4 linked regions of the Homo sapiens genome follow. The protein of the gene in region 4 interacts with the protein of the main gene of each other region in a pairwise test. Each region holds a gene or a part of one and is shown on either strand. Other genes may lie near its edges. The genes, in order: ENTPD3, STATH, AGPAT4 and LEUTX.

What was found.
Region 1: the proteins of LEUTX (region 4) and ENTPD3 interact in binary tests that used the Homo sapiens proteins (3 or more experiments, as listed by UniProt).
Region 2: the proteins of LEUTX (region 4) and STATH interact in binary tests that used the Homo sapiens proteins (3 or more experiments, as listed by UniProt).
Region 3: the proteins of LEUTX (region 4) and AGPAT4 interact in binary tests that used the Homo sapiens proteins (3 or more experiments, as listed by UniProt).

Annotation. Positions count from the first base shown.
Region 1 is NC_000003.12:40,390,168-40,397,191, reverse strand, and holds part of ENTPD3 (ectonucleoside triphosphate diphosphohydrolase 3), read right to left. Parts: intron 6,242-7,024; exon of another isoform or gene 5,170-6,241; coding exon 5,042-5,169; exon of another isoform or gene 4,623-5,041; intron 1-4,622. UniProt on the Homo sapiens protein: Has a threefold preference for the hydrolysis of ATP over ADP.
Region 2 is NC_000004.12:69,991,311-69,998,988, forward strand, and holds the start of STATH (statherin isoform a precursor), read left to right. Parts: upstream 1-4,655; 5' UTR 4,656-4,715; intron 4,716-7,112; 5' UTR 7,113-7,127; coding exon 7,128-7,178; intron 7,179-7,678. UniProt on the Homo sapiens protein: Salivary protein that stabilizes saliva supersaturated with calcium salts by inhibiting the precipitation of calcium phosphate salts. It also modulates hydroxyapatite crystal formation on the tooth surface.
Region 3 is NC_000006.12:161,138,046-161,145,069, forward strand, and holds part of AGPAT4 (1-acyl-sn-glycerol-3-phosphate acyltransferase delta), read right to left. Parts: exon of another isoform or gene 3,033-7,024; intron 2,422-3,032; exon of another isoform or gene 1,576-2,421; coding exon 1,377-1,575; intron 1-1,376. UniProt on the Homo sapiens protein: Converts 1-acyl-sn-glycerol-3-phosphate (lysophosphatidic acid or LPA) into 1,2-diacyl-sn-glycerol-3-phosphate (phosphatidic acid or PA) by incorporating an acyl moiety at the sn-2 position of the glycerol backbone.
Region 4 is NC_000019.10:39,774,353-39,781,869, forward strand, and holds the start of LEUTX (paired-like homeodomain transcription factor LEUTX), read left to right. Parts: upstream 1-4,501; 5' UTR 4,502-4,568; coding exon 4,569-4,575; intron 4,576-7,517.

The sequences.
Region 1 (7,024 bases), on a different chromosome or scaffold from region 4:
AGATCTGGCTGGAGGAGAGGACCCATTTGCATAAGGAGACCGAGGCTTTCTGAAAAAAAAAAAAAAAAAAAAGAAACTAATTATCCAACTCTTACTCTCCAAGAAGTAGACCAGGGTGGGCTACAAGGCACCAGAAATCCAGGCTGATGAGCAAGGCTCAATGAGGGTTAAAAGGGAATGATTTCAACACAGACTGGGCCAGTGGTTTTGCTTTGGAGAGTAATGGCTGAGCATGGGAGTGTAGACTAAAATGGCTTATGATCTTGGACCCAGTATGGGGAACTAATGTGGGCTGAGCAGGTCACAGTGGAAAAGCCCATCCTTAAAACCTTTAGACTGTGCAGAACCCATCTTCAACAGTGACATCACATGGCTGCAAGAGGCAGTACAATAGTATTGATCATTGGACTGAGAAGCTCTAAAGTTCTTGGATGGTTATGATTAGGGGTAGGGAGGGTGAAGCCTCAAGAGGAAGGTATTGGACTTCATGATGATAAAGCGGGGGACTGGGGGCCGAGTGAAAATTACAAGTGATGGCATCATGTTTACTCTTCAAGCTTGTGGAGCAAGTCAGACCAGTAACACAAGAGACTCAGACATTTTCGCCCCTTGACTGCATTTTAATAGTTCTGACCATAACCTCACATAAACCAGGGTTAGGCAAGCCAAGGTTAGATTTAATAGCCAGATACGACCTTGCATGAGAGTCCTCTGTAACATTTCAGAGCCCTCCAGACAGGCTGTTGTAGAGCTGGCCCTTTAGAACCAACTGTCAGCTGCACACGAAAGCAAAACAGGGCTCATGGTATAAAAAAATAAACATAACAAATAATTTAAAATCCCTCATATTTGCTCAACTTCATCACCTGCAATCCTCTTCAAAACAAAAAAAGAGAGATCTCTCCATATCCTGAGAAAAACTGCATGTGGAACACTCTCTTCCAAAGCTGTCATTCCGTTTCTGGTTCAACTGGCCCAGAACATCTGTCTTTTCTCACATTTAATCCACCCAATTAAGCAGAATGGACCTTCCGAGCTCATCTTCCTGTGTTTTACAATTTCCTGTCCCTTGCAATGGTGGCTAGGGTCTGTTACCAAGATTCAGAAGAGATTTAAAATCCCCTCTTTGAACTGCCTGCTGATTGGTGGAGGGTGTGTCTCCTGGTTCCTCCAAACCCTTGTTTAAGGCCACTGTTGTCTGTTCTCTTTTCTTTCCTTTACACCAGTTCTGCTATTTTCAATCTGTGTAACTATGGGAAGCTATTTGCCCTTTCTTTTCCTGTTTTCTCATCTGCAATACAGGGATAATAACAATATTATTTACATGGAGTAGTCACTGACAATTCTCTGCCCACATCCCCTCAGGCCTTACTACTGTGATGTAGAACTATCCATCTTCCACCTGCCTGAAGGCTTAACTAGTGGCCCGAGTCTACCTGATCACAAAATATGCCAGAAGGACTAGAGAGTTAACATCCAGGGAGCAGCCTCTCAGCTAATGACTGATGGAAGCTGGTGAATAAATATGCCCTTGACTGGGATATCTGGGAGGCACATGCCTGTATGCCCCTTGATATGGGACAACTTTGAGTTCTCTGTACCAGCTCACAGGGTCTCAAGCAGGACTGAGTCCCAGTTGCCCACAGTGCCGACCTGCTGCATAGCAGGCCCTCTCTTGGCTGCCTGACCCATCTCAGTTCCCTAGTCCCTCACCAGTGTTTCCTGGGATCATCCCCAGATGATCTACTTGCACGTATGTCTTTGACTTGGAGAGCCCAACCTAAGACAGTAGCATTCAACATGTGTGGTTTTCTCCTTCAACAGTGCCCTCTAGACTGCCCAGGGATCTATTTTTATCTACTCATTTTACTAGTCTTCCATCTGATTCCTCCATGTCTCTCCATTTTGAACAGAGGACTTGCCTGTTACTGTCCAGAACAAGTAGAAGCCATCAGCTGGCAACTGCCTTAACCAGCCCATTTCTAACATTTGTAGGATTAGAGACAAAATTTTATGAATAGAGGCTTCTGCCCTGTCCCTTTCCCAAACCTGTTCTCACAGAATAAAGAGCCCATGCACCTGTGTGTGGACAGTTCAGACCACACAGCTATGCTCTGTTTACACTCCCTGTAAGCAGCTGCCTCTTGGCCACCCCTCAGACCATTGGTGATGTCCACCTTCTGGAGGTCCACGAAGACCCTAGATTCTGAAGTCTTGGGCACCACAGTGTGTTCTAGAAGGGGAAACATGGGCTCTGGGTAAACACATTCGTTTGGGTCATAGAGAGAGATAAGCCTGAAGTGCAACTAGAGCTGGTCCTTCTGAAATGTGGGGCCCAGGGCAGGCAGCCCAGCTATCAGGGTCTAAGGGTGGTACTAGGCTTAACTCCTCTCCTTCAATTCAACAAACCTTCCCACATCTGCATGCATCCTCCCTACCTTTCCATCCTGTGCAAAGCAGGAAGTGTTCTCTTATCTGAGGCCAATCCCTTCCCTCCATTTGGGATCTCCATTCAGAACTCAGGGTCAGGGAGAAGTGGGAGGCAGTGAAGAGAGCCCTGGCCTTGGGAACAGAAGGGACCAGGTTTCAGTTCTGGACCTGTCATTCACTGACCAAACCTGTATTTTCTCACTTTCAAAATGGCAGTCATGGTGCTCGCTTTGTCCACCTTCTATGGTTGGCATAAGAACTAAGTGATGTAATGAGGGAAAAGCGCTGACTTAACTGAATAGCACTATACAAAGTGTAAAGAGATATTACTCTTAGTTGCGGCTGGGCACGGTGGCTCATGCTTATAATCCCACCACTCTGGGAGGCTGAGGTGGGTGGATCACCTGAGGTCAGGAGTTCAAGACTAGCCTGGTCAACACGGTGAAACCCTATCTGTACTAAAAATACAGCAAGAAAAAATTAGCTGGGCATGGTGGTGGGCACCTGTGATCCTAGCTACTTGGGAGGCTGAGGCAGTAGAATCACTTGAACTGTGGAGGCAGAGGTTGGGGCGAGCCAAGATCATGCCACTGCATTCCAGCCTAGGTGACGGAGCACGACTCCGTCTCACAAAATAATAACAATAAAATAAAAAATAAAAAATATATTACTCTTAGTTGCAGTTCCTTTTTTTTTTTTTTTTTTTTTTTTTTGAGACAGAGTCTCGCTCTGTTGCCCAGGCTGGAATGCAGTTGGCACTATCTCAGCTCACTGCAACCTCCACCTCCCGGGTTCACGCCATTCTCCTGCCTCAGCCTCCTGAGTAGCTAGCTGGGACTACAGGCGCCCACCACCACGCCCAGCTAATTTTTTGTATTTTTAGTAGAGATGGGGTTTCACCACGTTAGCCAGGACGGTCTCAATCTCCTGACCTCGTGATCCGCCCGCCTCGGCCTCCCAAAGTCCCAATTTTATATACAGTAGTTTGTAGAAGGCAGTGCCTGGAGCTTGGGAAAACACCTTCTTTTAGGCCTCAGCTAATATCTTTGGACAACTGGGTAATTTGCTTTCTTCTCATTATTGGGTGATTGCATAAGGTTTTTTTTTAATTTTTAATTCACATTATTCATGAGGGCTGAGATTCTTAAATAAAATATCCTATCAAGGAACCAAATGCTATTATATTATCTAATGGAGATTTTACTCTAATCTTTTAGAAAAGCTGCCTTAGAATGTTAGCTCAAACCCATCCTTAGAGTCCAAAACAATATTAGTTTCTTTTCTTTTAAAAATGTCTATGTATTTCAAATATTACCTTTGAATAGTCACTAACAGCAGGAAGATATGGAAAAGACTTGTGAGGTCAAGTGTAAATGTTAAATGAGATTCAAAGAACATGGCTGAATTACCTGGTCCCTATGGCACAGCTAAGAAGGGTTTGTACATTCTTAATGAGTCAAAAAACAAAGAAGAGTTATAAAACAGAGACTATAAATGGACCTCAAAGCCTAAAATATATACTATTTGACCCTTTATGAGAAATGTTTGCTGACCCCTACCCAAAATGATTGAAGGACTCATCAACTTGCTTCATCTTTCCCTTGTCAGCCTCTCATGGAATCACCTCCTGTCTCCAAGGGCACCCTCAGAGCCAAGCCTGGGGATATATTATGATTCTGAGCCTAAAGATCATTTGGGGATGGACTTGTTGAGAACTAAGAGGGGCCTCTGGGACTAAGCACAAGGTCCTGAGTAATTTTTTTTTTTTTTTTGCCGGGGGGGTGTTGTTGAGGGAAGTGTTGGAAGGAACACAGCACATGTTCTAGACTCAAGAGTAGCAGCACAAATAGAGCTCAAGGAGACCTTCTCAAGTTCTTGATTTTTTGTTCACTCAGCCTAGGCTAGAAGAGGTGCCTGGGTCTCCTGGTCTTGACTTCTTTTTTCCTTTTTTTGGAAAAATTTCTTTTTGGTAGAGATGGAGTCTCTCTATATTGCCCAGGTTGGTCTTGAACTCCTGGGCTCAAGCAATCCTTCTTCCTCGGCCTCTCGAAGTGCTGGAATTACAGACATGAGCCACTGTGCTCAGCCTCGGTCTTTACTCATTATCAGGGTTGTGTGGTTGGGAGAACAGATAAACTGGTCAAAATGGAAAGTGCACTAACCGGTAAATTTTTTTTTTTTTTTTTTGATAGAGATGGGTTTCACCATGTTGCCCAAGCTAGTCTCGAACTCGTGGACTCAAGCAATCCACCTGCCTCAGCCTCCCAAAGTGCCTTACAGGCGTGAGCCACCGCACCTGGCTGAACTGGTAAATCTTTGATAGCTATCTGCAACTCTTGGTTACAAATTTTAGCTTTGAAGTCAGAAGTCAAAGCAAGACTACACAGTCCTTGGAGAAGGTGTCAGTCACTACCCTCAATTTGTAGCCTCAAATATCACAAACCCAGCATGTCCAGACCTTCTCCCTTGCGTCTTACACTAACTTCTCCTGGCTTCAGCCAGAGATGGGGGGAAAGGATTTTCTGCTCTTCTAACTCATGGTTTTGGAATAATTGATTTCTTCCCCTTTATGCTCATTTCTTCCCTTTGTTGCCAGTCCCTTCACACTTACCTTCAGTCCTGGAGGGAGGACCTCTTGCTTGTGGATCTGGATGACAGTGATACTCACAAGTACCACAATACTCACAAGCAAGACCACCAAGGCAATGATGGTTGGAGTTCGGTAGAGGGCCTTGAGGCCTAAAATGAGAAGACCCAGAAGACACTTGAGGGGGAGGTAAAAACCAGGCACTGGTATTCTTTGTAGAATTGATGGACTGGCCCCATAATCAGGTGCATAAACCACCTTCTCTGGTGTTAGCGAGACCCACACTTCTAAGATGGAGTAGCAAATAAGCTCCCCTTCTCCCCAGTTTTGGGGAAGCACAAACAATACCTATTTGCCCTTCCTCACAAATTGTGTACTAAAACAGTGTTGCAGGGAGGGTATGCATGGTCTAGTTTTCTGATATTTTGGTTATCCCTGAGATGAATTACAATAACATTTGTTTTACTTTTTTCTTTTTCTTTTCTTTTTTTTTTTTTTTGAGATGGAGTCTCACTCTATCGCCCAGGTTAGAGTGCTGTGCCGTGATCTTGGCTCACTGCAGCTTCCAACTCCCAGGTTCAAGCGATTCTTCTGCCTCTGCCTCCTGAATAGCTGAGATTACAGGTGCCTGCTACCACGGCAGCCAATTTTTGTATTTTTAATAGAGACAGGGTTTCACCATGTTGGCCAGGCTGGTCTCGAACTCCTGGGCTCAAGTGATCTGCCTGTCTCGGTCTCCCAAAGTGCTGGGATTACAGGTGTGAGCCACCACGCCCAGCTAACATTAGTTTTAATGGAGATTCAAAAAATCTATTTTTAAAAAATTAAACCAGGTGATAGAATATTTCACTTAAAAATAATCTCATAGAATATTTCATTTAAAAATAATCTCAGTTAAAGAAAAAGAAATTAGGCTGGGCAGATGGCTGACCCCTGTAATCCCAGCACTTTGGGAGGCCGAAGTGGGTGGATCACTTGAGGTCAGGAGTTCAAGACCAGCCTGGCCAATATGGTGAAACCATGTCTCTACCAAGAAATACAAAAATTAGCCAGGTGTGATCATATGCGCCTGTAGTCCCAGCTACTCGGGAGACTGAGGTGGGAGAATTGCTTGAAGCCAGGAGGTGGAGGTTGCAATGAGTTGAGATCAAACTACTACACACCAGCCTGGGTGACAGAATAAGACCTTGTCTCAATAAAATAAAATAAAAATAAAAAAATTAGTACTATACTATACTGAAATGATTTCATTTATTTGAAGTTCAAAAGTAGGAAGGTAACAGGAATCAGAATAGTGATTGCCAGGGGGCAGAAGTTGGGGCAGGGATTCACTGAGAAGGAATATGTGGGCACTTTCTTGGGGTAATGGCAATGCGCTATACAGAGTGTGGAGTATATGGATGTGTGCATTTGTCAAAACTCATCAAACCTTTCAAAGTCCTTTGGAGAAAACTTGAAAATGAAAGCAAATCAGTGTCTTAGGTATAATTTCCTTTTAAAAAAACATTATAAACTTATAAATTGCCCTTACTATTCTAAAAACATACTTTTAGAAGGCAAGAACACCCAACTTAGGGGCACGACTTAAGATCTATCCATTTCACTGAATAGAAGTTATACCTAATTTTTTAAAAAGATAAAAAGACATTCAATGAAAATACTGACTAAATAATAATCTTGGGCTGGGTATAGTGGCTTATGCCTGTAATCCCAGCTTTGGGAGGCTGAGATGGGAAGATGCTTGAGGCCAGGCGTTAGATGCCAGCCTGAGCCACATAGTGAGACCCCGTCTCTACAAAAAATGAAAAAAATCAACTGTACATGTGGTGCACACCTGTAGCCCAAGCTACTCAGGAGGTTGAAGTTGGAGGATCCTTTGATCCCAGGAGCTCAAGGCTGCAGTGAGCTGTGCCGCTATACTCCAGCCTGGTGACAGAGTGAGACCTTGTCTCTAAAAAAATAATAATAATAGTCTTGGTAAAACTATTGGGACATCAACATAAATGA
Region 2 (7,678 bases), on a different chromosome or scaffold from region 4:
TCGATGGCCTGACAAGGCCCTCTTTAGATACTGCACATGCAGCAAGGTCTAAGAGAGATGAAAGTTGGCCTTCAGGCAGTTTACACTGTAGTTGGGAGATAGAAACAACAAGTGAAAAAATAATACATAGTATCTCAAGTAATCATAAGTGTGCTAAAGATGAAGAAGGCAGGACTAAGGCAAAGAGGCAATTTAAAATAGGATGGTCAAGAAAAGCTTCTCTGGCACAGTGGCATTTTAGAAAACATATGAAGTGCTTATGTTCATAAGTTAGCATGAAAAAAAAAATCCAGCAGAAGAAATAGCAGGGCTGCATTCTACTGTGGTAGAAATACATTTATTGCGTTTGGGAAAACTCTAATGAAAACAGCATGAATAGAGAAGGAAAGATGTGGATTAAAATAAACTATATTACAGAAAAGAGGTGAGGAGATGATTGAAGCGCCATAGGTCAAAGATAGCCTTTGGATTGAGATAAATGCCATTGGATCAGGCATTGATCTGATTTATATTTTGGAAGGGAGGCAAGGGTTGAAGCATAGATCCCTTACTTTGGCATTACAGAACCCTGCTGGCCCTTAATAGTTTTACATCCTTTTGTTCTACCTGTTCATTCTTTTTTTCCATATTCTCCTAACCTACAACTTAATATTTATGATTTAGTACATACTTTCAATAACTCAAACAACTCCAGTGAAGTCTGAATTTGATTAATTATATTTGCTAAAATCTCAATCCTACTAATTGTTAAATCTTCTTACACTGCATCTCTACCAAGAAAACGCAAATGTACAAAGAAAAGAATTTATTTTATGTTTTATAAATGTGGCATACAATGTTGCTAAGCAAATAATATTCTTGTATTTAGTTTTATAGCTCTCACCCTTTCCCTTCAATAAAATGTCCAAATGTATCATTAAGTTTTCTGAAATATCCAACTCATCTTACCTTGTAGTCAGTTCCAGAAAACAATCTACTCTGAATTAAAAACTGAGCCCATTTGATCTAACCCATTTAAGCTCTCTACTTTCACTTGTTTATAAATTAATCTATACTTGACCAGATTTGTAACTCTCTGCAACATCTTGATCATTGACATGATTCTAATGTTTTTCCAGAGATATATTCCTGTTGTTCCTGGTTTTGTATTTCCTCCTTTATACTTGGAGAATTTTAAAAATTAAGATGTTCTTTTTCATGAAGATTATGATGATGAAAATTATAATAATGATAGAATCTAATATTTGCATTTGAGTCATTTTAATTTACAATGTGATTTTTATATACTCTCCTTTAAGTTTCACGTATTACTGTAACATTTTATAAATAAGAAAATTTTAGTTTAAAGACATAAAGCAAACTAAGCAACCTATAAGGTCACTGCAACATGGTAATTAACATTTCCTTCCTGATGTTTCATCCTCTTGGCTTCCACAACATACAAACAGCCGAGAAATACCTCTTCTGCTATTCTTTTCCATCACAGATTTTTTTCATAGACTTTCTATTTTCTCTTACACATTACATCAGTGCTCAGCAGGATATCTGTCCTCAGCCTATTCTCTTCTGACTCTACACATCTTGATTGTATAAGCTGTAATAATCTCATAGTTTGATTACAATCAATAAGATGATAAGTGCCCAATCTGCAACTCCATTGTTGACCTTCTTCTCCCAATTTTAGACTCATGTTTTCCTGGGTTTCTCTGTCTTAGCCTTTATCCTTGTCTGATTCACAAATTATACTGTAAACTCCTTAAGAACAAGAGTAAAGCTTCTCATGTCATGTCTCCAGAATAAACAACATTCTATCTATCTAGTAGATTATCATATGTTGTTCAGCATTTGTCAATCATATATGTCATTTTAGTAATTCAAACAGGAACATAATATAACATTTTTAGTTAAATAAATAAATATCATGGATATTGGTCATAAATGGTTTCATGTTTCCATCATAAGAGAATTGCAGAATAAGGAGAAGGAGGAGCAGCAACTGGAGCAGCAGGAAGACAAGGAGGATGAAGAGGAAGAGGAGAAGGAGACGGCAGTAAAGAAGATAGAGAAGCAAGATTGAGGAGAGCCCAGCATAAACATCACTACAAATACCCATTCATGGGTTGTATCCTTAAGCAAAAATTGTATTGCCTCACCTGTGATAAAGCAGTAGTTCTTTGTTGATGTTTCCTTTGTAACGAAAGGTCATGACATTTTCAAAGAGAACAGTGTTTGGCATAGAGGATAAGATATCTGTTTTCTTTAATTATAAAATATGAAGTCATGTTCTGGTTCATCAGTCTTCTAAATTGGTCTGCTCTTCCTGGAGGGTGGGACCATAACTAACACGAGAAGGTCACTCCTTTGTTTCTAGTCTGCTATCCTTGTTTGACCTATCATACATAATCCCCACACTTCCTAACTTGGGGAAGCAGAAAATGATGGGTGGACTAATGCCTACATGTTGGTATTCCAACATAACATGTAGATGAGTTAAGTTTAACTGTAATTTTAAAGTGTGTATATTAAGATGTATCAATATTTCTTACCATGTAGTTTGCTGTTTGTTAGTGCCTTTGGGCTATTAGTTTGCTTTATGTTCACTAGAACATGAATACCTTAGATCTACTAGAACAGTACCTAGTATTGTTGGATAAATGAAGTGGTGAAGAAAACCAGAGGTAAGAAAGGAGAAGAGAGGGAGAAGAAAGAAAGAAGAAAAGAAGAAAATCATTTGACTTTCCCCAAGTAATCGAAGCAGTTTATTTTTAAAATCAGATATAGTTCAGTAGTTACTGAACCATGGGCCAGGCACAATGGCTCATGACTGCAATCCCAGCACTACTTGGAGGCTAAGGCAGAAGGATTTTTGTGGTCAAAAGTTCAAGACCAGCATGGGCAACATAGCAAGACCAAGTCTCCACCAAAAACAATTTAAATTAAATTAACCAAGAGTGATAACACATGTCTGTAGTCCCAGCTAAACATGAGGCTGAGGTTGTAGGACCACTTGAGCCCAGGAGTTCCAGGCATCTGTGAACTATGATCTCACCAATGCACTCAAGACTGTGCTATGCAGCAAGACCCCATCTCTGGAAAAATAAAATAGTTACTGAACCCTATGTAACTTTTTTCCACTCAGAATGTAAAGAGATTGTGTTTGTTTTACACATGAGAAGAAACTTTGTATCTATAATGCTTATAAATCTCATGACAAAAGAATAAGAATAATATCTATCTAATTTAATTTGAATTATTTATTTGCCTTAAGAAATGATTTATATTTTCTTGTATATTACCCAGAGAGTAATCATAATTTCCAGTAAGGCTGTTCCAATACAGCATAAAAATTTACCTAATAAATACTTCCTTAAAAAATCTGATACAAAATTAAACCACAAATTATCTTTACTGGTTAAAGCCTAAGGATAACTAATGCATTCAAGAGACAAATATGTGGTTGTTTTTTTTTTTATGTTTTTGTGGAGATACGGGTCTCACTATGTTGCCTAGGCTATTCTTGAACTTCTATGCTCAAGCAATCCTCCTGCCTCGGCCTCCCAAAGTGCTGGGATTACAGACATGAGCCACTGAGACCAGCCTTGTTTCAAACTTCACAGTACCCAAAGAATCACCTGGAGATAATGTTAAAATGCAAACGCCTTAGGACAACCCCAAGATTCTGACTCAGCAAGTTTGCGAAGGTGGACTAAGAATTTACATTTCCACAGGCTCCAGCTGATGCTGTCTGTGATGTTCCCATATGGCACACTCTGAGGAACAATGCACTAGGCTGTATAACTTACCTCAACTTTATATATAAGTTTTTGATATTCGTTTCTTAGTACATTGAGTTATCCAACCAGCAGTGAGTAGGGTAATTTTTACACAAATTTTCCTAGGAATGTAATGAAAACATTTTTTCCTTCACTCTAGTGTAATCATGTCAACACATGGCTGCTATGGAAAAATATGTAGCCTTAAAAACTCCAGGAAATTAAATTGAATTTCCAAATACATATATTCAGTCATATGTGAGATATGTATCAGTGAGCACTTAGAGTCATTTCACCATAAATATAATAATTTTTTATCATATAGTACCCAAAAGATTACTGAATTTGGCAAATGTTTACGTTCACTTTGTAACTTAAAATATTCTAAAGTCAATAGAAGATGGTAAAAGTATGAGATAAATAATGATTTGAAGAAAAACTCTTGAAGTATATGAAGACTGTAATTTTATTATGCCAGTTACCACGAGTTATCAGAGAACATGTAAAATCTTGATAACATGGTAAGTATTATTTGTGTCATAGAGTTGTTCCACCTTGGACACATACTTGTGGAAACATCTTTATCACTGCAATTATTTCTATGCCTGGTTTCCTCCAGCATGCTTTTCTGTCATCTGACTCACTCAGCGCTAGACTAACAGTGGGATTAACATGCAGTGGGTACAGTTGTTTCCTGGTTACTTTGTCTTCACAATCATCTATTGCAAAATCACTTTGTTACGGTTATTTTTATCATTTGTAGAGACAGATTTTGGGCATTACTTTTAGTTTCCATAATGTGATCTCATAATTGCCATTATTTAACAAAAACAAATGGGGGACTTCAGAGTGTTTAAATACATTGGCCCTCTAGGGTAGCACATCATCTCTTGAAGCTTCACTTCAACTTCACTACTTCTGTAGTCTCATCTTGAGTAAAAGGTAATATGTTCATGTATAATCGAATATGTTGTCTTAATCTAGAGTGTTGCTTCCTAAAATCTTTTGAAAACTAATTATAAAAATGTGTATTTATGTAATGATAATTTCTCATAAAGAAACAATTGAGAGAAATGATGACCTTCTTAGGATCTGAAGGTAAGTTGAGAATCTGAATAACTATACATTGAAATCAGCAATCATCATGCAAAGTAAATAATGTGGAATATGGAGACATATTCCAACTTCTCTCCTGATGGAACTTCTGAAAAGCTTTTTATTTCCTTGTCTACGTACTGGCATCTACTCTGCTACTTACTACTTTTACCTTTATTCGAAGTTCATATTTTAAGAAAATAGCATACGTTCTCTTTTTTGCAAATGTATATATTGTTTCACAAGTTTAACTTTTAAAAATTTACTTTTTTCCCATAAGTAAACATTTCTCACTACCTTTTCATTGACCTTTCCATCATTTTAAACAGTTATGTCATTCTGCATAATAAAAAATGTTGTATAACAGTCATGCTTTACTGCCTTACTGTTTTATATTACTTAAGTTGTTTTCATTCAGTTGTGATATGGCAGAAAACAAAGATTTTACTATTTCATATTTTTATTATTTTTCATTGGGGAAATATTTTTTTAAAACCATGACATATATATTTATATATCTATGTCTATATATCCATCTTTCAGTTTATCAAGGTTAGTAAAACAAAACTACTCTTCTATGAGCATTTTTTGATTCCATACTTTCAATAAAATTTACAGGTATAAAATACACTAAAGTTTTTATGCTTTTTGCATCATAAAATGACTGATGGGTAGGTTTATCTATCAGGTGATAGAAAAACCCCAAAGTACATATTATTTTTACACTTACTCTAATACCAGAAATTTCCTTTTTTTTTTTTTTTTTTTTTTAATTTGAGACAGAGTTTCGCTCTTGTTGCCCAGGCTGGAGTGCAATGGTGCAATCTCGGCTCACCGCAACCTCCACCTCCCGGGCTCAAGTGATTCTCCTGCCTCAGCTTCCTAAGTAGCTGGGATTATAGGCACTCACCACCATGCCCAGCTAAATTTTTATTATTATTATTTTTAGTAGAGACGGGGTTTCTCCATGTTGGTCAGGCTGGTCTTGAACTCCTGACCACAGGTGATCTGCCCACCTTGGCCTTCCAAAGTGCTGTGATTACAGGCATGAGCCACCACACCCGGCCAGAAATTTCAGTTTGAATAACTGAGGCAAATCAGTGAATAAGTAACAAAGCAAATGCCATAAATCATGAGTTCTGCTTTATGTTTTGGAGATTTGGGGTTATTAATAACAGTAATTTTTTTTATAATTAGGTAAAAAATATTCTTGTAATGTTTTATCACAAGTTATTGGTAAAAGAGATTAAAATAATGAAGACCATTACCTTTATATGAATTACTCTATAGTTTTCAATAAACAGGTAAAAATGTCATTTATTTGTAACTCTTGTGGCAATTATGTGTTTCACTGAAAATGTCTTTATTTAGATGTTTATAATTTACAAATAAATAATCTAACGTTTTTTGTTTAATAACAAAGGAACTGGGTTAACTGGCTTATACTGTTTATGATAACATATCACAGTCCCAGATAAGGTTAATTTTGTTGAATGAGATTATTTAAAATATTAAGTCATCTTCACCAATTCAACTTCTCAGAGGAGGTACGAATATTTTCTCTGTGACTTCTTATCAGTTTGATTGTTCTCTACCCAGTATCATTAATGTTCTAATCTGAAGGTGACCCCATTTTTGCAACTCTCAAGACAGAAATCTGGCTCATTTTCAGTAACATTATAAAGCGATTGCCCATTGCTGGTCATTCTAACATCCAAACATCTCTTTACACTGTACCTTAAATATCATCCCTAATGTCATTATTTAAGGCGCCCCATAATATCCAGTTCTATCTTCCCTACATTTTGAACTGTTCCAGTTTTATCTTCTGATAAACTGCTCCAGTTTTATCTTCCCTACATTTTGAACTGTTTGCACTTTCAATATGGTATCCTCCCTCTTTTTCATTTTCTTGCAGTCACCCAACACCTCTTTACTCATCCTGCATAATCCAACTCAAGCTTTACTTTCTTCTTTACCTTCATACCCCTATTCTCTTGGTCTGTGTAAGGTGTTGATTTGTGTGTTACTCTAATGCCTTAGCATTTCCATATCAATACACTCACTTTTACTTATCAGTGTCTCCAACAAGTCTCCAAGTTTCATGATGTCAGGCAATGGGTTTTAATTGTCTTTCTATCTGGAGTGTGTCTCCCAGTGCTTTGGAGCGTAGTATAATCAATAAACTTTTGATGGGCGAATGCAAGAAAAAATGTGATACTGAATTTCCACATATGTTTTCAGAGAACCCAGCCAACTATGAAGTTCCTTGTCTTTGCCTTCATCTTGGCTCTCATGGTTTCCATGATTGTAAGTATATCAGGACATTTGAAGAATATGTTCTCAGTACCTATCCCAAGAGTCTCTCTATTCCTTGTGTTCTGGCATATATTGGTGTTTACTTGAATACAGCTTTATATGTTTAAATGTTTCCATATGAACTTTTTTTTGTACTAACCTACATAAGCTATATAAGGATTTAGAATAAATAGTCATTATTCATCTACAGACACTAAAGTATATTTAGCTTAGTGTGAAATAAAAGAAAGTTTTACTGAACTTCTTAAATATGTGGAACTGAGAGCTTCTAAAAGTATCTTTAAACATGTAATGCTCTAGACAATCTGAAGTTAGAAATCTCAGGAATGAACTAGGTGCACTTGAGTGGAATTCAAGTATTAGAAGATGTCAAAGTAGAAATTTTCAAGTCATTCCTTGCAAAAACTAACTTAAAATTAGTATACAATTATTTAGCACACACTTTCTAAAATAAAGCTGCTTATTTTTAACTATAAAACAAAACTTCAGAT
Region 3 (7,024 bases), on a different chromosome or scaffold from region 4:
TGCCTGCTATTGAAGCAGAAGGGTTGAGCTTGCCCCCGCCCTACCAGGGGCCCTGGCACCTGCAGCTGCCCCGGACCCTTGGCCAGCCTCAGCATGGCGGGGCATGGGGGTGCCCCTGGACCTGCCTTAAGGAGATGAGGTGCTTTCTTCTCCAACCTCTTATTTTTTTCCCTTACACGGTGTGGGTGTTGTTTTAATATTTTAATTTTTAACACTAAAATACATCTTAATCTTTCAAAAGACTGTATAGTAGGGTCTATTTGAGGAACAGGAGCCAGCTTGTCTACTGCACCCATATGCTGCAGCATTGGTTGGCTCAGTCAGAATGAATGAGCTAGGTTTATGTGCTGTGACCTGTTTTGGTGGTTATGATTCATTAGGTGAAAAGGCGAGCTGAAGAAACTCCACTGATACGGGTTTATAGATGCACATATGCTTGAGACTGGAACCACCACGTGCATCAAATTGTCATTAACGATTATCTGGGAAGTGGGCTCAATGGGAATGGTCTCCTGACACACTTTCCATTTTCTGCGCTTGTCTATTGCTTGGGCCTTTTATAGTGAGCATACTGCATCTTTGTGTTTGACAGAAAATAACTGAGTCCTGTCCATTTGGAAGAAGCACGTGATCTCTGTGTGCTTGGACAATGTGCCGTCTCTCCCGGGCTCTCCAAAGCCTCAGAGGACGCCAGGCTTGGGGAGACAGGGCCTTTCACAGGGAAACCCCAAAGTCTTCCTTGGCTCCAGGAAGCACGGACCTGCTGTTCACAGGGCAGGAAGCAGGCACGACAGGCTGCCCCGCCAGAGGCAAGGAGCAGGGTGCACAGGGGCTTGCCACCAAGAAGCAGCAGTAGCCCGAGAATACCGGTCACCTGGAGCCAGCGCAGACCCATGAAAAGCTCTGTCGCCGAGTGTCTCCACTCAGTGTCATCCACCTGCAGCAAAGGAGAAGCCACAGGCGCCCCCAGAGGAAGGCAGGGAGCTGCCCATCCGTCCCCGCCAGGCTCCAGCACAGGGCTTTCTTCAGAAGCAGGAAATGATGCCAATGAGCAGAGCTGTCTGCGGAGGACAGGGAGGGAGCACTCCCAGCTGTCGGGGAGTGAAGTGGCAGCTGCATCACCACCCAACAGGGAACGTGTGGAATCCAGCCCCAGGTGGGAGGCTGGACCGTCCAGGCTGCGGAGGGGGTCCCAGGCCTGGTATTCGAGGGCCTCGCACTCATCCTGAAGTCTAATCTTTCCCTGTGATTGCAAGCTGAGCCTGCTCCTCATCCACGGCACAACTGCCTATACAGATGGCCTTCGTCCCAGCCCTGATGCCACCTCTCCCAGGGTGGTGCTGTCAGCACCCACCAGCCCCTTGCCCTCCACTCACCCACAAAGAAGACGAGGATGAAGCTGGCCAGCGTCAGGGAAGACCCGCTCCTGATCATGCTGACCAGGAACTGGAAGAAAGGGTAGAGCACCAGCGAGGCCCAAAACAGCCAGTTCACGAGGGTCCAGGGCCGCCGGGGGGGCACCATGGGCGTCTCTGGGAAGGTGCCCGTCCTGTAGTACTCCTCCTGAAAGGCATCCTGGGGGACAGGAAAGAGGACCCTCAGACGCCACACGGGGCTCGGTGGCAGGTCCCTCCCGAGGCCCTGCTTCCAAGGGAATCGCAGAGATACACAGGTGCCACCGGGGCTCGGCAGAACTGGGGTCTGCAGCTCCTTCCAGAAAGCACTTTGTAGGCAGCTGCTGTCTTCTCAAAGCTGCATCTGGCCGCCCCTCCCACAGGGACACTGGGAGTGGTGGGGCCGCTGCAGCTGTCACTGAGTGCAGGGCGTGGAGCATGAACCCTGGCGCCAGGCCAGCCTGGGCTAGGATCCACCCTCTGTGGGCAGGCACCTGCATCCCTGAGCCCAGGCCCCAGTCTGTCTAATGGGGCAGCAGTGCCTTCCACGATAGGTCGGCGGGAGAATGGAGTGGATGCTGCGCCGAAGCTGCCCGCAGGGGACACTCGGTGGAGACCTGGCCCGCAGTCAGGAGGAGCTCGCCCAGCCCGGCCCGGCACATGCCCCGCCTTCCCGGCCTCCACAGCCAGTTCACCTCGGGCAGCCCACCCGCACCTACCACCCTGTTTGCCACTGGAGGGCTCTGAGGGCCGTGATTCAAGGCATCATGAATGACAAAGGGCTGGAGGGCTGCTGGGTGTGGCTCTCAGAGGTGACAGCACACTCAGGACTGGGTGTCCAGGGTGACTCTTCTAAGTGATTGTTAGACCGTGTGAAAGGTAAACAAACAGGCTCATGTCCTTCCACTAAGCAGATCCTTAGTGGGAACCATGTACTCATCCACATCCACCCACAGGGTGTGTGTGTCACCGAGCAGCTTGCAGGGCAGTTACTCCAGAGCCTCATGGCGCTCCTTGCAGTCCCTGGGTGAGAACAGGGGACTCACGGCCCCACATAAATGCACTGCGAAAGAACGCGGTGGCTCTTCCCTGGGTGTCTCATGTCACGGAGCTCCCGCTCAGGGACTGGGGCTCAGCCGCAAGGAGCTGCTGAACACAAGGGAGGGACCCAGGAACCCAGGTCAGCAGGCGTGCTCAAGCGGCTGGGAGCTGAGCTGAGCCAGGACCTGGGGGGAACAAGGAGCTGTGGCACCAGGATGCCCGCTGGCCCGTCTAAGGGCAGGTCCTGGCCGTGAGGAGGGGCCAGGGCAGAAGCTGCCTGCAGGGAGCAGAGCTGAACCAGGCAGCCACAGGGAATTGCCCAGGTTGTATGGTGGGCAGCTGCCTCAGCTATTGTAAAAGCTGCACGTGGCCGATAGCATGCACGCCACACAAAAATGGGTGTGGGTCACAGTGAGGCCCAGTTTGTGTCCCATGAACTAGCCTAGTAATGTCCCAGTTCTCTAAGGAGTCGAGTTTTCTGGAAAATGAGCTTCCTTATAATTGAAACTTATACTACTTAAATGCTGAATATTTTCCTTTAACAACTTGAGATAGAAAAGTCTAAAGTATCTCATACTTTTCTTCTTTTTCATTCAGGGTGTACTGAATCATAGGCTTTCTTGGCCTCTCAGAGGCACTTTTAATAATAGTCCACACACTAGGCCATTTTGGAAGGAGAACCCCCAACCCCTTCCCTGGGCAGTTCAGGTGCCTCTGCTCTGTCCTCGGCCCCCTGCAGCCCATTAACAAGCCTGGTCCGAAGCGTCACTTGTCGCGTGACTCTGCTGTTGGACATCAGCCAAGAGAAGCCATGGGGGCTCTCAGGGGAAGTCACATCATCAAGCAACTGAAGAACAATCAACGTGTGTGCCAAGCACTCCTACCCTCAAGCAGTGAGAGCGATCAGATGGTGGAGGAGACAAGGAGGTGAGCACCATGACGGTCAGCAGCACAGGCAATGCCCAGAGAGGTGGCACCCAACTCTGCCAGGGAAGCAGCGGCATTCGCCTGCCCACCAGAACGGGGTGATTTTCTTATCCCAGGTTGGGGCCACAGGGCACCTGATAACTAGACAAGGGGGGTGATATTTTTGTGCCTTGTTTTTTTTTAAAAAAAAAACAGCTTTCTTAAGATGTCACTTACATGCCATAGAACTCACCCATTTTAAAAAATGGGCAAATGTGGCTTTTGAATTTATTTTCCTTAACAGTCTTTATAGTGCTTTTTTACAGTAATATCACAAAGGGGAACTCACCATGGTGCCTTTTCTGTCTTGTTTCCAGAAAGACATTTGCTAGGCCAAGATTGTTTTATTTGCACCTCTAGCAAGAAGAAAAAAGCACTCCCTTTTCTAGGAGCTTCCCAACTCAGAACTTCCCATTCACTTTATTTTATTTTTTGAGACAGAGTCTCACTCTGTCGCACAGGCTGGAGTGCAATGGCACGATCTCCTCTCACTGCAACCTCCGCCTCCCGGGTTCAAGCAATTTTCCCACCTCAGCCTCCTGAGTACCTGGGATTACAGGCACCTGCCATCATGCCCAGCTAATTTTTGTAGAGATAGGGTTTTACCATGTTGGCCAGGCTGGTATTGAACTCCTGACCTCAGGTGATCCTCCTGCCTCAGCCTCCCAAAGTGTTGGGATTACAGGCGTGAGCCATTGCGCCCAGCCCCATTCACTTTAAAGTTTTCTTTGTCTGTGGTTTAAAACACTAAATCTCATCCCCTCCCCTCACTTATGGCCCATGACATTGCCACAGGACCTCCCACTGACTATCGGGGAGAGAACAGCACCGCCAGCTCTGGCCAGACTCCAGGCTCTGGCAGCAGAATGTCCGTGGCCCATCTTGGTTGTGGACCCGTTTTGTAATAAAATTTGCCCCGCAGGGAAAGGACTCGTGTTTTTTGTTTTTGTGTGTTACCGTGTGGCATAGTATAAAGTTGGAACTGGGAAATGTAGTTATTGAATGAAGGAGAGTTGGTTTGTTTCCAGAAAGAAGCATCAACCTACAAGCCAAGAGGAGAACGAGATCCTATTGAGAGGCGGCAGATCCCCGGACGAACGCCCCCTGCAGCCCGCAACAAAGGCACTAGGGAGGAAGCGTGCGAAGGAGACGTCCACACAGCACGTCCGCTCAGCTTTCCCAGGGCCCAGGAGAAGAAAGAAGGGAGAAAAGAACGGGAGGAAGAACAGGAAAGAACGAAGAATAGAAGAGAAAGTTGAGGAACAGAGAGGAAGAAGCGGCTCCTCTTAGTCAGCAAGTCTGGGCGGGGAGAGGCTCTGTGAGAAGCGCTCGCAAGCCTTGGTCTCAGCCCGCAGACACCACCCGAGTGCACGGCCAGGACTTGCAAAGGACTTACCATGGGAGCCAAGCCTTGAGGCTCCCTGCTGCCCTTCTAAGGAGCAATGCCCTTATGGTTTAAGTGAAAAAACAATTGCCAGTCCCCAAAATGGTTCTTGTCCTTGAAGGCCAGAGCAGGAGAGCACAGTGTTTCCCACGGGCCACCATGCCTGCACCCTGAACTCTGCACCCCACCCAGAGCTGCTCCCGACCTTGGCCTCCACAGGACGGCTCTGAATGTAGCTGTCCTTCACTTATTTCTCTTTAGAGACAGGGTCTTGCTCTGCTGCCCAGGCTGGAGTGCAGTGGTGCAATCATAGCTCACAGTAACCTTCAACTTCTAGGCTCAAGCAATCCTCCCACTTCAGCTTCCCCAGTAGCTGGGACTACAGGTGTGTACCGCTAGGTGCAGCTAGTTTGTAAAATTTTTTTGTAGAGACGGGTTCCCATTATGTTGCCCAGACTGGTCTCAAACCCCTGGCCTCAAGTGATCCTCCAGCCTCAGCCTCCCAAAGTGCTTACTCCCAAAGGGATTACTGGCATGAGCCACTGTGCCCAGCCTCACCTATTTCTTAATTTGCACTATTAATGGCCAAGTTATAGTCCCTTCTGCAAATGTCAAATTACAACCTGAAGAAGTACTTTAAGTTAGAAATGAAAAGTTAGAATCTGTTCACCCCATACAATTAAGAAACCGTGATGGCTATCGTGACCTCCCTGGAAAAAAGGGGGTTCTGAGGTTGTAGGTTCAGCCTCAGAGCGAGTTTACCTGGGAACTGCTTTTGTCCACAGAAGATCACACAAGGGCATGAATGGTTTCTCAAAGCCTTCCAACAACACGAGTCCCAAATGCTGACGAGCAAGAAATACTGTGCATTTTTCATAAAGCTAAACTAGGTCCACTCAAAGGATGGCCCTGTTTTCAGAGATGGTGCCTTTCCCATATTAAAGAGTATAACTGTGTCAGTGGTAGATGGCGAGTTTCTCTTTATTTATGTCCATGCTTGGAAAGACCAGAATGTTGGCACACCTCTGTTGGCTGCCTGCCATTCCCCTCCCATTTTGCAGAAACTTTACTTGTCCATGAAATTGAAAAGTCAGAGAACTACTGCCCTAAAATCCCAAGGTCAAAATCAACAGAACTGTCTTTTGACATACACCACACTTCTGACTGCAAGGTTGATCATTAAAATGAAATCCCACTTTGACAAACTGGGTCGGGCACCCAGATTTGGGGCACGTAAAGCTTTAGATCTAGGCTCCTAGCAAAATAGGCTGATACAGAAAGGAATTGTCCCTTGATGTCTATTCACCACTCTGCTTGGAGAAACCATGCACCACTTCCACTTGCTGCTCAGCGATCTTCTCGGAAGGGCAAAGGGCCAGCCTCCCAGGCCTGCTCACAGACACATACTGCTTAGAGAACTCGGTGTCGCCCCAGCCCTGCACGGAGAGAGAAAGGGCCTGGACTCCAGCACCTGGCTTTGATCAGTGAGCTGGAAAACTGGGTAAATCACTTCATCTTTCGGACCTGAATTTCCTCATCAGTAGTGTAAGAGCTTTGGAGTAGATGATCACTTTGAGAACCCTACCAAGTTGAACACTATCATTTAAATGTGAACATAGTTTAGAGGAAAACACCCTAAGAGACTTTTAACAAGAAGGAGATGTGCCTCTCAGCTTGGTTTACACGATGACCACACTCTGCCTGAATACAGGGGAGGAAGGGCCCGTTGAGAAAAATCTCCTTTGCCTTGATGGGCTTGAGGGCCCACGTTTATTGTAGATTTGTTTGTGTGGCTCTTTACAAAAGAGGCTCATTTTCTAAACCTTTTCTTAGCATACTCTGCTTTCGGCTAAAAGTAACATTTTCGGCTGGGCACGGTGGCTCACGCCTGTAATCCCAGCACTTTGGGAGGCCGAGGAGGGCAGATCACAAGACCTTGTGAGATCGAGACCATCCTGGCAAACACGGTGAAACCCCGTCTCTACTAAACATACAAAAAAATTAGCCGGGCATGGTGGCGGGTGCCTGTAGTCCCAGATATTTGGGAGGCTGAGGCAGGAGAATGGCGTGAACCCAGGAGGCAGAGCTTGCAGTGAGCCGAGATCGCGCCACTGCACTCCAGCCTGGGAGACAGAGTGAAACTCAGTCTCAAAAAAAAAAAATAAAAAAAGTAACATTTTATATGCTGCCTCAATGCTTAGACCAGAAAACAGAGCAAGAAAAATACTGCCTCATGCAT
Region 4 (7,517 bases):
TAAGTACTGATTGGTACACCTGTTCGTGTAGGGCACAGTCCTTTCATCGCTCCCACTAAAAGTTTAACACGGGAACTAAGCTATGAGGATGCAAAAGGATAAGGATGATACAATGGACTTTGGGGAATTGGGGGAAAAGGCAGGAGGATGAGGGATAAAAGACCACACATTGGGTACAGTGGACACTGCTGCAGTGATGGGTGCACCAAAATCTCAGAAATCACCACCAAAGAATGTATTCTTGTAACGAAAAACCACCTGCTCCCCAAAAACCTATTGAAACAAATATTTAAACATAAATAAATAGGCCGGGCACAGTGGCTCACACCTGTAATCACAGCACTTTGGGAGGCTGAGGTGGGTGGATCACCTGAGGTCAGGAGTTTGCTACCAGCCTGGCCAACATGGCGAAACCCAGTCTCTACTAAAAACACAAAAAACTAGCTGGGCGTCTTGGCAGACACCTGTAGTCCCAGCTACCTGGGGGGCTAAGGCAGGAAAATCTCTTGAACCCAGGAGGTGGAGGTTGCAGTGAGCCAAGATCACGCCACTGCACTCCAGCCTGGGTGAAAGGGTGAAACTCCACCTCAAAAAAACAAATTTAATTAATTGAATAAATAAATACATAGACTTTGAATAATCATCATCCAAAAAGAAAATTAAATTAAAAGGATTTCCCTTTGAGGGAGCTATCTGTGAAAGGAAATTGCTTAATACAGGTGAGCACAAAAAGAGAAAGCACCCTCTTATTTCATATTTTATTTTTCAACTTGTTAAAGATTATATTTTCGAGCTACTCTCCTAAACTAGAAACCCACCAGCTCTAACTTAGTATTCTTCTCCAGGACAAAGGGTGTCATTTGTAAGGAATGACAAGATCTACAGGGAATGCTAAAATGATAAATTTAATACATCAGTGTGACTTAGTTAAAGCAAAATCTTCCAGAGTCTCAAACTTTGCGTGTTATTTTCTGGTAGCTCCTGAAAGCAGTCTGAGAAGAATACAACAGAAAAGATGAAGAATTGTTTTAAAACAAAAATTCAAAGTAATAATAATAAATAAAAGCCTAATATTCCCTCTCGCACTTGGCAGGCACCAACCTACCATTTTTGTACATTCAGCTCCACAAGACTGTTAGGTTCTACTCTGCCATCTCTTAAAAGTTAGCATCTAATTCACAGTACTATTTAAATTTCCCCAGTTGTCCAAAAGCATGTCCTTTATAGCTGTTTTAAAATCCATCATCCAATCAGATTTCATGCCTTTCATTGTTATGCTTCTTTAGTCTCCTTTGTCACCATGCCTATAGACTCAGGGGCTGAGGCGGGAGGCTTGCTTGAGCCCAGGAGGTCAAAGCTGCAGTGAGCTGAGATGGTGCCACTGCACTCCAGCATGGGTGACAGAGTGAGACCCTGTCTCAAAAAAAAAAAAAAAAACCTCTGTATTCTATAAATATAATATGTACAATTATTCCATGTCAATTAAAAATAAAAGAGAAAAAAGTCTTTATAATCCATGTATATGAAGTTCAAAAGCTGGCATTACTGATCTGCGATGACATAGTCAGGCAAGTTGGTACCATTGCATAGGCAGAGATGGAAAGAAGCTTGTGGGATGCTGGAAATATTCTGTTTCTGGATCTGGGTGCTGGCTACATGGGGGCTTAAAATCGCTGGTGTTACACTAATCACTCATGAACTTTTCTGCATGTATGTGCAACTTAGAATAAGAAAATGGAATTACGGTTCACATGCTAGGCATGCCTGGATCAGGCTAGTGGACAGCATCCTGTACCACCGTGTCCCATCCTAAGTGCTGTAGAAACATGTTCCTAATACTTCAGTGCATGCCAAAATAGGCAAATATTTTATTTACATTTGAAATCTCACAGTAGCAAGGTCAACTACAGCCACTTTCCCCCAGGGAGAGTCCAATATTTTATTCATGTCTCCTAAACTCTTATAATGAGCAACTACCATGGGCCAGGTCCTGTGCAGGGCTCTGAGGATCACAGGGAAAGACCCACAACCTCCCTCATGGAGACCAACATTCCCAGAAAACCCACGCAAATAAACATAGCGAGGTATGGTGAAGCTCCGGGAGTGCTGCCGCACCACACAGAAGTTCTGACCTGGCCTGGGGCGTATGAGAGAAGCCTTTGATGAGAAAGTAGGGAATGAGGCCTCTGAAAGTAAGGGGAGGGTGTGCTCCAAACAAATGCAACAAAAAGAGAAACTGTAACTGCACACGGTTTTCAGCCTCATGCCTCCGTGGAACCTGCCTGTCAGGCGGGCACCTGGAATCTCAAGCAACTTTCTCAAGGTGAGGCGATTTTTTTCTTTCATTTCTCAAGTAGCTTGTGGTAAGAAAAGTGAGCTGAGACTGGGTGCAGTTGCTCATTCCTGTAGTCCCAGCTGCTTGGGAGGCTGAGGCGGGAGGATCCCTTGAGCCTGGGAGGCGGAGGTTGCACTGAGCCGAGATCACACCACTGCCTGGGTGATAGAGCGAGACCCCATCTCAAAAAAAGAAAGAAAAAAGGGAAAGAAAGTGAACTGAGTGTTCTGTGTCTCCCAAGGCCCCTTGAATGGCTTTGTCCTTCACTTGGAATAAAATTCAAACTTCTTCACCTTGCCCCGACCTTGGTTGGCCTTTCCAGTTTGAGCTTTTCCCGATATTCCTCTCCCACAACACACCTCAACTACAGTGGCCTCTTATCTGCACCTCAGACATGAAAAGGTTTTTCATGTCTCTGGGCCTTTGCACTTGATGTTCCCTTTGCTTAGAACACTCTTCCCTCTCCTTCAGTGAAAATGATACTTCCTCAGAGACATCTTACCTTACCTTAAAACTACTGCACATCCTCTGAATCAGTGCTGTTGGTGGCATTCATAACACCAGTAGTATCATAATCAGAACTGCGTATTGTCTTGTTTCCTTTTTTATTTCCTGCTTCCCTCCCTAGAATGCCAGCACTTGGGAAGGCGGCAGTGAGTTCTATTTTTGTAAATCCCAATTTCCTAGTCACTGGAACAAATCTTAGCAGAGCAGGCATTCAAATAATTAAGCAAACAAATGAAGAAGTGTCAGGGGTGTTTTAACGTTAAGTTCTGCAAAATTCCCTGCTATTGGGGAGGTCATACCCTTTGAATATATCACTCTCTTTCCATCCTCATTAGTGTCATAGGGCAACTCCAGGGACTGATTCTAACATTTAAACGGAAAATTTGAGGCCCACTTTATCCTTTCCGATAGGATTTGGGAGTTTCTACCCTTGACTGTGTTAGAAGTGTTCCTGAATTTTATTCCTGTAAAAGACATAGATGGGGCCAGGTGCAATGGCTCACTAGCACTTTGGCAGGCCAAGGCTGGACGATCTCTTGAGCCCAGGAGTTGAAGGCTGCAGTGAGCTATGATGGCACCACTGCACTCTAGTCTGGGCAACAGAGTGAGACCCTAAAACAAAACGTAAAAAGATACAGATGGGTCCTTCAATCATTTGGCCTTCAGGCTACCTGCAATGTTCCCAGAGACAGAGTTCTTTCGCTAGTCCAAGACTTTTCCAAACCAACCTGGTGGGGGTGTGGAGGTTGCGGGAGAGGACAGAGTTGAGGGGTAGTATAAGATGGGCCAAGACCAGAGTCCCATCTCTGCTTCAGAAAGCTTGGGTCCACATTGAGTGTGGGGAGGCCATATCTCATGGATAGAGACTAGATCTGTCTAGTGAATTACACTCACCCCACAAATAAGACCCATCATGGAGAAGAACGTTAGGGGGAGGAATAAATAAATGAGTTAATAAGGTGCCTGAAAGGTGGAGTAAATGAGTAACAGAGGGACAGAGAGAGGGATGCTCAGAGGAAAGAAAGAAGCATGATTCTTTTAATGCAATTTATATTTTAAGTTTCCTTGCTGAAAACTCGTTATGGGCTCCCCAGCTGCCCCCAAATCCATACTCAAGAGAAGATACAAGATCCCCTATGGTTTAGGCTCTGCCAAGTTCTTCACTGTCATCCATTGCTGTCTCAACTGGAAGAGGTTGAACCGAGATGGGCGGGTGAAGGGCTTAACTCCCATCATCCCAAACTCCTAGCAGGATGCCTCCTGCTGCACTCCGGGTCTCACTGGAAGCCGTCCACGCACAGGGCACCTCCTTCACCTTCCAGTTTGAATCATCTTACCAACTTATTTTTCTCTCAGCGCCTTGTTTATTTACTCATTGATCCCAAGTGACATTTTTGAACATTTTATCCATTTTCAGTTCGCTCCACTTTCTTTTGTTTTCTTCCACTCTCTGGAGTCAAGGATCAGTCTTTTTTTTTTTTTTTTTTTTTAAACATAGTTTTATTCCCAGTGCCCTACACAGCATCAGGCATATAATAGGTTCTAAATAAACAGATATTGAATGGATTATTGGAGGGCGTGGTATTAGGGTAGGACAGGGTGGGGACATGATTACATTAAAATTCTGCTTAAATAAGCGGGTCTTTTAGCCCAGCAGTCACATAGACTCAGCTCAGGAGCTCTGCAGCACACAGCTGATCGAACCCACTCATTTCTAGAGGACACCATGTTTGGTAAGTTGGGCGAAGGCAAGAGGCTGGGGTTTCAGTGATTGGGTTGCAGACAAATCAAGTGAGAGGTGTGGGACCTTGTGGTGGCTTCTTAGAAACCACTGGGTAAATTTAGAAACCACTGGGTTATACCAACAAGGATTGTTTGAAAAACACTTTGCAAGGGATTCTAGTAACTTAGGAATTTGTTTCTCCACATCTCTTTTTTAAAGAGATGGGGTCTTGGTATGTTGCCCAGGCTGGCCTCGAGCTCCTAGGCCCTAGTGATCCTCCCACCTCACCCTCAGGAGTAGCTGGGACTTATAAGTGTGTGCCACCATGTCCCGCTAATTTTTAAATTTTTTGTAGAGACAGGATCTCACTCTGTTGCCTAAGGTCGTCTTGAACTCACATCCTTTTTAATGCCTGGTAACTTTCATACTTTTTAAATGTCAGTCCATTGATGGGTATAAAATAGTATGTGATCTTTAATTCCCATTTCTTTACTAACCCGTGTGATTGAATCTGTTCACTCTATTTTAAAGGCCATTCTGTTTTTCCCCTATGCTAATTTTTATATTTATATCATTTCCCAGTTTTTAGTATGTTTTTTTTCTTGAGGCTTAGTAGAATATTTTTGTTGTCTTCTAGACACTAATAATTTATCTCTTATATGTGTTGCAAATATATTCTCCCAGCCTGGCTTGTGTTTTTCAATTTACTTATGAGTACCGTTGTACAAATATTCTAAAAGTTGTCATTGTGATATTTATCAACATTTTCCTTTTATAATTGTACTTGTAAAACGTAGTTTAGAAGTATATTACTGGCTGGGCATGGTGGCTCACACCTGTAATTCCAACACTTTCAGATGCCAAGGCAGGCGGATCTCTTGAGGCCAGGAGTTCAAGACCAGCCTGGACAACATGGCAAAACCCTGTCACTACTAAAAATACAAAAATTAGCCAGGCATGGTGGCATGTGCCTGTGGTTCCAGCTACTTGGGAGGCTGAGACACAAGAATTGCTTGAACCTGGGAGGCAGAGGTTGCAGCAATCTGAGATTGCACCGCTGTACTCCAGCTTGGGCAACAGAGCAAGACTCTGTCTCAAAAACAAAAAAAGTGTATTTCTTGGCTGGGGACATAAATGTAATTTTAGTTACATTTTATTTTAACTTCTTAAAATGATTTGATTCTAATAGAAAAATTATGCATCAACAAGCTCACTTATCAAAACTTGTACCTGGCTCTTCTAATACATTTTCCTATTGTTTAATACTAAACTTACAAAAATACTAATTAGTCGATTTTACATATTGACCTCTCAGCTTGGTAGATGATTTTAAACTCAAAGCCACATCCTTCCTCGATTTTACCTCCTATAACTTATCAATGTGCAGTGTTGCTTTTCTAAAGACCAGTAGAATTCTAATTACCATTCCTTTGATGGAAATTCTACTTCCCTTTAGAAGCTTCTGGAAATTTCTATATATTCCTGGTATTCTGATATTTTTGCAACAACGATCCTTTTGTTCATTTATTGTGCTCATCGTGGAATGTCTTCATTCTGGAAACCCCTGTGCCTCATCTCTCAAATCTTGAATTTTTTTTAATAAATACTTTCATGATACTCTCTGAAACATTTTTTAGTCAGAGATATTTTTAGTCACATAAATATTGCTAGTGCTGGACATCCCTGAGCAGAGATCTTATTTTTTTCCGACCTTTTCACTCTTTTTGTCCACTTTTGTATACTTTTTCTACTTCCTGGAATAGCTTTGTCTTCCAACTCTTCTATTATTGCCTAAGGGTTTCTTTTTAGCTACTGATTTCAAAGAACATTTGTCTTATCAGATTTTCCTTTCTTTTCAAGACTTTCTTGATGTATGAGTGCAATATCTTTTATCCGAGCATATTAATTTTAACATTTATAGATTTTCTTTTTTTTTGTAATTTTTTTCTAATTGTTTTATATTTTTAGTAGAGATGGGGTTTCACCATGTTGGCCAGGCTGGTTTTGAACTCCTGATCTCAAGTGATTCACCCTCCCTGGCCTCCCAAAGTGCTAGTATTACAGGCATGAGCCACCGTGCCCAGCCTTATTTCTTTTCTTAAGAAAAAATGTGGTTATTTGCTGCTTTCCTCCTCTTCTTTCTTTTTCTCTTCCACTTTCCCTTTCTTTTTTCTCTCTTTCTCTCTGTCTCTCCCTCTCTCCCTTTCTTGCTGTCCCCTTCCTGTTTGAGAATTTTTCTTCAATGTCCTGTAAATTTTTGTTCTCCCTTTGTGTCTAAACAAATGCTGAGACACTAAGAGAAACCCATGTGCCCGATCACTTGTCTTCACTGTGCGATAATTGGGCAGCATGTTGGCTTCTGTTTTTCCATGTATTTGCATGAGGAATAAGAGCATCCTGAAAATAGAAACTTTCCTATAAAATAGATGACCATGAGAATCAGGTTTTACTAGATGATGAGGTCTTATTTATATTCTAAACCATAGTAAAAACTCCCATTATGCACTAATACAGTTTGCATATTTGTCCCCTCCAAATCTCATGTTGAAATGTGATCCCCAGTGTTGGAGGTGGGCCTGGTGGAAGGGGTTTGGATCATGAGAGCAGATCCCTCTGAATGGCTTAGTGCCATCCTCATGGTAATGAGTGGGTTCTCTATCTCTAAGTTCACCTGAGATCTGGTTGTTTAAAAGAGTCTGGGACCTTCCCCTGCTGTCTCTTGCTCCCACTCTCACCATGTAACACCTTGGCTCCCCTTCGCCTTCTGTCATGAGTGGAAGCTTCCTAAGGCCCTCACCAGAAGCAGATGCCAGCACTATGCTTTGTGTATAGCCTGCAGAGCTGTGAACCAATTAATTCCTCTTTTCTAATTTACCCAGTTTTAGGTAATTCTTTATAAATGCAAAATGGACTAACACATGCACCAAGCCTGTAATTAACAGACTTGCTTCT